Linked DNA regions of Homo sapiens. The protein of the gene in region 1 interacts with the protein of each later gene in a pairwise test. Each region holds a gene or a part of one and is shown on either strand. Other genes may lie near its edges.

The links.
Region 2: the proteins of HERPUD2 (region 1) and SLC7A1 interact in binary tests that used the Homo sapiens proteins (3 or more experiments, as listed by UniProt).

What each region holds. Positions count from the first base shown.
Region 1 is NC_000007.14:35,667,636-35,671,288, forward strand, and holds part of HERPUD2 (homocysteine-responsive endoplasmic reticulum-resident ubiquitin-like domain member 2 protein), read right to left. Parts: intron 2,694-3,653; coding exon 2,580-2,693; intron 1-2,579. UniProt on the Homo sapiens protein: Could be involved in the unfolded protein response (UPR) pathway.
Region 2 is NC_000013.11:29,589,036-29,592,688, forward strand, and holds part of SLC7A1 (high affinity cationic amino acid transporter 1), read right to left. Parts: intron 1-3,653. UniProt on the Homo sapiens protein: High-affinity, low capacity permease involved in the transport of the cationic amino acids (arginine, lysine and ornithine) in non-hepatic tissues.

The DNA.
Region 1 (3,653 bases):
TCATAAAATTACAGGCACATTACTAAAAACGTATTCATGAAATCCCTCTGCAAAATAACATTTCAGAAATTTACTGTTTTACATCGTGTGTCCAGTATAAGTAGATATTTTAATTTTAGTACGTCAAAACTTATCAAAACTGCTTAATTAAACTAAAATATTCCATTTTTTCAACTAGAAATGGCCGAGGAGCAGAATAATAATATACAAAAACAGCATATTAAATTCTGAGGATTAAGTTAATGCATAAAAAGCTCTTTTCACATGATTAAATTAATGCATGCAAAGCTCCTTTCATGATGCCTAACACATACATTTATTGAAAGTGTTCAATAAATGGTACTAATTACTGAGTCATTTAAACAGTTACTATGTGCCAAGTACTGTACAACATGCTATTGTTAACATATTGATTTAAAGTAATGAGAAACAGGCTAGAAATCCTAGAAATCAAAAGATCTAAAATCTAGTGTTATCTCTGACATTAACAAGAGTTATAACCTTAAAGGTTCACTTAACCTCTCAGAGTTTCCACTTTCCTACAGAAAATGAGATTGGACTAAATTTTCAAGATTCCTTTCAGTTCTAGAATTCTATTAGTTTATAGAAATCACCAACAAATATTGCTTTTTTACAAAATGAACTACGAGAATCAAGATGTTAATCAGTATTTTTTTATTCTCATGCTCAAATCTTTTTATTCTCGTGCTCATGGATTCAGTAACCATAAACAATATAACTCCCTGAAGACCATCCCAATTTGTTTGAAAATAGTTTGTCAAGTGTTTCATGTACATTTAAAACACAATTACATTTTACATAAATTATAGTTCTTCCACTTTAAAAAGCTAGGTACAGTATTATTTTAACATCCTTCCTTTAACAATTTTGTTAAATTGTATTTTACCCGTACTGCCTTCCTATTGACAGGATGTCTTTTTGCATGACTCCCATGCTAAGTCCTGCAATGTGAAAGGTCCAAAACTGTCTTTTGCAAAACAGTCCACACCAGTCTTTTGCAAGACTAACAAAAACTTTTAAAATGTTACTTCACACACAATAGATATCAAATATCTTACTAAGGAGTCCGGATTCTTAGGAACATAAACTGGGAAAGGTTTCTTTTTCAGCAAGATTTCTCATTAAATGGGCCATCATAATACGGTGTTCATTAATACAATTATTAGAAGAAAAGCCTAGTCATTTGGCAGCACAACCTAATTTCTCTAGAACTAATGATTTCTGACCTTATTAGGTAATTATTTTATGATTAGATCTTTAAAATATTTTCAAGTCCCTTGAAATTTCTGAACCATGAAAAATTAAGGTGAATTCAACTTAACATTCCTTTGATACTTTTCAGGCTTTCATAACACTGAAAAAAACAAATATACACACTAATGACACAAAATCATGGCTGAGCAACCCACTGGACAAGTCAAAGTCAGAGGGTTCTTTCCCAACAAAAATTGAAGCAATGCAACTGTGTCCGACGACTACAAAAAAAAACTCTGTGCCAATGCCAATGTCTGTGCCTTTCCATGCCAAGGCAGGAAACATACAAAGACCCTTGGGTGTTTTGACAAGGCATATTTTATTTAGTTTAATGTAAGCTAAATTCCCATGGCTGGTACTAGGAAATAGTTACCATTAAGAGAATACAAATTAAATACAGCAACTGGAGAAGCTAGTTTCTTAAAGAAGCAGTTAACTAGTATCTATTGAGAGAGTTTTCAACTAGCTCCCACCCCTGTCACTTGTGCTCTCTTTCAAGCTTTGGCTGGAGTCTTGACAAGGAAAGCATACTTAGCAGTAGAAAAGTTCCCTGACTGCTCAAGAAGTTGAAAGCAAGCTTCCACTCATCCAATCCTCTCACCTGCAAAGGTGTCATAGAAAGCTTTTATGGGAAATCAAAAATAACATAAAAGGATTGGGGACAATGTTTTTGAAATTTGTAGAAAATGTCTAAATTGAGAAGGTCAACTATTACAAAACATTTCCAAAACAATTTTAGGCAGATGGAAAAATAAGGATGGAGGAATGAATACCCAAGTCTGAAAGAGATTAATACATTAAGTATTTCCTCCCCAAGCAGGTGGAATGTACACCCAAATCCAGTCATTTTTAAAAAACAAAATCCTTGACCAAGTCATCTACTTCAAGAAGATTTAGGGTACTTAAATTTTAAACAATTTAATCCACCTTGAATAAAATATACTATTTTAAATACCTGGCATATTTCTGAAACGTCATTGGCCTAAGAGTTTATATTATATAACCGTAACATAATTCCGTTTTCTGAGTATTCCAGTAATTAAACCTTTGAAGATTAAATCTATTACTGACCTGCCATACAGCAAATTATAACTCAAGGTGAATAGACTTCAAGGGATAACACTGCGTATTAGATCTTTCAAAATGGTAAACTTTACAAAATGCCTAACTTTAGTTCAAAACACAATCTCAAAATTCACAAGCTCCAATTGTTCTGTTTTTCATTTAGTTTTTAGAGGCAAAAAATAAGACGACGACGAAAAAAAAAGAAAAGTTCAATGTTTACTCCTCCCAAAACAACTCACAGAATTGCTGCTGGATGCCAATGCTTCATGACTTTCTCTATTGGTGCTGGATTTTGGAGAACTGGGAGGAGTCCGAGAAGTACATACTAGATGAACCATATGATACTCATCTTGCTAAAATTAAAGAAGATTACATTTAAAGGGTAGTACTACAAAATGTACAGTTCAAAAAGTCAGTAGCTAAACTGAAATACCTAAAACTTAGGTCCCTTTCGAGCCTAGCCATTTAATTACTGATAAATTGTTATCATTTGAAGGTAAATTTGTCATTTTATTTGTGATCCTTTTGAATTCAATATTTTCTCCATACTTGGAAAATGATCTAAATACTCTGCAATTGCTGGGTTAAAAAATTATTTTGCATACGAAGCAGTCTTAAAGCAAACAATGTTGTGAAAGTTGTAACAGCACAATCTATAATTTCAGCATGAAAACATCTAGCACCTTAAACTTTTTACAGTTTACATATTTCCATCACTTGAGGCTTAGCAACTATAAAATAAACTCAAATAACTTCATCATAATCACATTTGCCTTAATTTTAGCAAGGTGATTTTTTTTACTCTTTTTTTCAGTCAAAAACTATTTTTATCTATAACACCTATACGCAGATATAAAGCATACATTTAAACTATATTCTGTAAATATCCCATGTTTTTCCATAAACCTAGAAATATGACTGAAGAAAAATATTCCAAATAACGATTAGGGTTGGCATTTTAGCTTAGTGAGATCATAAGCATATTTATTTATACTTAGACATAAAGCCAGCAAATAAGATGGGGAAAGGAAAGAAGGAATAAAGGAGGACAGAGAACAATGAAGGATGAGTCAGCTAGTTTTTTAAAAAGAAAAGAACAGAATGACAAAGAAAAAGGAGCAGAAAGAAAGATAACCAAATGGGGAGAAAGGGAAACAAAGCTACTAGAAACTATGAATGTATCACTTGCCTACCATGAACCTATAATTGTGCTTAATTTGGAGACAAATCCAAGAAAGGGTACAACAGGCCCTTCCTTAAAGAGGCTCATGATATTGTTAAGAGGGTAGACTAGTGCACTACAGCACAATTAG
Region 2 (3,653 bases), on another chromosome or scaffold:
GGGCCAGGAAGACTCTCCCAAGTCACTTTGGGGAAGACGGGCCCTTGCTGCAGGCCCTGGTGTGGACAGCTCCTGCCCCAGCCTCTCTGAGAGTGTTAAAGATGCATCCTCTAAGGAAAGGGGGCACCTCCGCAAGATATTGTAGAAATCAGCAAAGCCAAGCCAAGGGCAGGATGACAGCGGCCACTGGCCTTAAGAAGGATGGAACACAGAAAAGGAAGCTGACTTTCCCCTACGAACAGTCTCTGATTTCCACAAGACCCCCTGCAAAGGGGTCTCCCCAGGTGGAGATGGAGGTGGAGTGTGGGCGTGGCTGGATGGTGATAAATCAAACAAGGCTCCATTGTGGTCTGGGCAGGAGGCATTGCATCCAGCCAAAGGCTGGTGATGTAAATGCCAAACTACTGACCCAGAAAGAATGCAGCCCAGCCTCCGTCACACACACCGGCTCCTGACACTGGCCACGTCCCAGCGCAGCTGCCCCAAGGACCCCAGGGCTCCAGCTGTGCCAGGTGCCTGGACTTGGGAGGGGGAAGACCCACTTTCAGAGACAGCAGAGGGAAATCAGGGCAAAGAGAGGGGAGGCAGGGTGCCCTCCAGCGTTGGGGCGGGTGACCGGTGCCAGCACCACCTGGACTCAGCCAGAAACAGAGGGACGCAGGCAGATGGGCTTCAGATCTGTCTGCCTCCCACTCAGTGTACACAGGGCAGGCCAGGCCAGGCCTATCCCGAGACAGGCTGGAGTCCAGGTACAGGCAGACATCTGGGTTCCAATCTTCACTCTGCCACTGACTGCCTACCTGTGTGCCCGTGGGCCACCTGCCTTCCCCTCTCCCCATCAGTCACACCAGAAGGGCCGATCCCACTGGGTGGTTAGGAAGATTCAAATGAAACATAGATAAAGCGCAGAGTACATGGTGAGCACTAAATAAGTGCTTGCAATGATTGATCTTACCTAGCCCCAGGGCCCCTCCCTTCCTTCCTACTTGGCCTAACAGACTTTGGCTAATGGCACTCAGTAAGCAGACAAGATGCAGAGAAGGACACTTCGAACACGTCCATAACAGATCAACTCCAGCCACTTTGTGGGGAGGATGAGCCCCTGCCTTCTCACTGCTGCCCCCAGGTGGGTGTCGCCCACCACCCCTGTGCTGTATGGAGACATCCTATCCTACAGACCCAAGCACGGGATGAGTGAGGTGGGAAACACGGCCCAGAGTTTCAGCTTTTCAGCTTTGCTTTTTCTAAAACCCAAGGGCTTCGGAGTAATTTGAACAACATGTTTGGGATGACTGTAGCCAGGGCAGTCACTCCCGTCCTGCCCCCCACCAAACACACACACATACATATACACATACACATACACATACACATAAACATACACATACCCACACACAGCAAACACTAAGAAAGGGGCTGAGAGCTCTGTTTCCCAGGAGTCCTAGAAGTCACTGAGCGCAAGGTGCATGGGTCTGAGTCCTAAGCAAACCTGCACCCCATGCTCAGGGAGACATCAGGATTCCAAAGAGAGATGGCTTCAAGTCCATCCAGGCAGTCAGAGCCAAAACAGCCCAGAGACTATTGTTCCTTCCCTCAGACCTGGGACCAGATGGGATGGTGAACCTGTCAGCAGATGCCTCAGAGGCCCGCATCCCTCCTCCAGCACCCTGGGACTATGTCTGCCCCTTCTAATTTAGAAACCCACCCAAGGAAAGAGCACAACATTTTAATGCCTTGGTAAAATGAGAGAGCGAAATTAAGTTGTTGTAAAAATTATTTTTCTCAGGGCTAGGCTAAGTGGCTCACGACCATAAACCTAGCACTTTAGGGAGGCGAGGCAGGTGGATCACTTGAGGCCAGGAGTTTGAGACCAGCCTGGGCAACATAATGAGATCCCTTCTCTACCAAAAAATAAAAAATAAAAATTAGCCGGGTGTGGTGGTACACACCTATGGTTCCAGGTACCTCAGAGGCTGAGGTGGGAGGATCGCTTGATCCCAGGAGGTGGAGGCTAATACAAGCTGTGACTGCACCACTGCACTCCAGCCTGGGTGACAGAGTGTGACCCTATCTCAAAATATATATATATTTTTCTCCCACACCTAAATCAAGGAACTGAGCCTTCTTTCCAGTATAATAGTTAACACTTACATGCAACATTTAGACTTGTGCCAGAGGCTGTGTTAAATCCATAACATGGATTATCTCATTTAAATCCTCTCAGTCCTATAAAGTAGGCACTAGAAGGCAATTATTATGCAAACAATATGAAAAAGAATTTAAATGTGGTTCTGAGGAATATCTCAGAAAAGACACTGACCCCGTAAGTGGAACCCACTCTGGGGCTCTGCTCTTTCTGCCAGTAGGGATCATGATGTCTCCTTTGACCCCACAGCGTAGAAGCCCCATAACCTCATGTTGCAGAGGCCCCATACCGAGCAGAGGCCACTCCCTGAGTCACCACTGCTAGATGGTTTCTACAATGCAGAACTCACTGTGCAGGACACGGCAGTGTGGGATCCACTTTTAAAGAAACAGGAAAGCAGCTGGTTGCCCTCACAGCCAAGAATCCGATCTGAACAAGTATTCTGAAGAAAGCACTGCAGTAGGAATATGGAAAGCTAGGAAACAAAATTGCCATGCCCTCTGTGCCCCCAGAAAAGGGAGGGGGGCAAGGGGACAATCAGAAAAAAATGGAAAGACAATGTAGCCAGACATAGTCCTACCAGAAGAAGGGACATCCTCTCCCACCTCCAAATAAACCCCCAGGTTTCCTCGCGCTTGATTTTTGGTTGCCACGGTCAGAAATTTTTGGTTGCCGTGGTCAGAATTGCAGGCTGCTAACAAAAGGACTGATCTCAAGAGAGAAATGTAAATGCATGGACTTGGTGCCTTGATTCTTTCAAAGAACACTGTGGACTCCATGCTTCCTAACTTCACTACTGTGAGGCTGAGAGGGACAGGCTCTCCCAATATACAGATGGAGCCAGTATGTAAGGTTCACGAAGTCTAAATTACTTCAGAGAGAAGCAAAGCCAGAGAAGCCAGGAGCGGTGCTGTTCCCAGTATTGGTCCCAACTCCCCTCAAAGAAGCATCCTTCGTTTCAGGGCAGATAATCATCCCATTCTGCATTGAAGCTGTGAAGGCCTCTTCCCTCAGTCACACGGCTCTGATTCCAGTTATCCAGTGTGTTCACCAAATGCAATACCTGCCATTCCCCACTGTTCCTGACAATAACTAGAGGAAAAAAGCCCAATGAAAGCCACTGGGTGTGGCAGGAGGGGCAAACCACAGACCAGCCAGAATCTGGTCCAAAGCCCAGAAACATCTTTTCTGAAGCCCAAGTTCCTGGGATGACCAAATCTCGACCAGTGGGCCAGGTAAATGGCATCCCCTGGGTCTGCCAACACTGCACATCTGAACGAATGCCTTGGGAGAAAAAGGAACACGGCTAGCAAGCCACCAAATCATTTTCCCAGTTTGATGCCCATCCTTCTGGTAATTCCATTTGGAAATGTACTAAGCCTGGATTGACAGATCATGACCCACACTGAACCACAGGGGTGGTTATTTTCAAGGCTGCTTTGTAGATGGGTATGGGAGTGGGGGAGGAGGCAGATTATGGCAAAACAGAAAGGGAGGCCACTAAAGT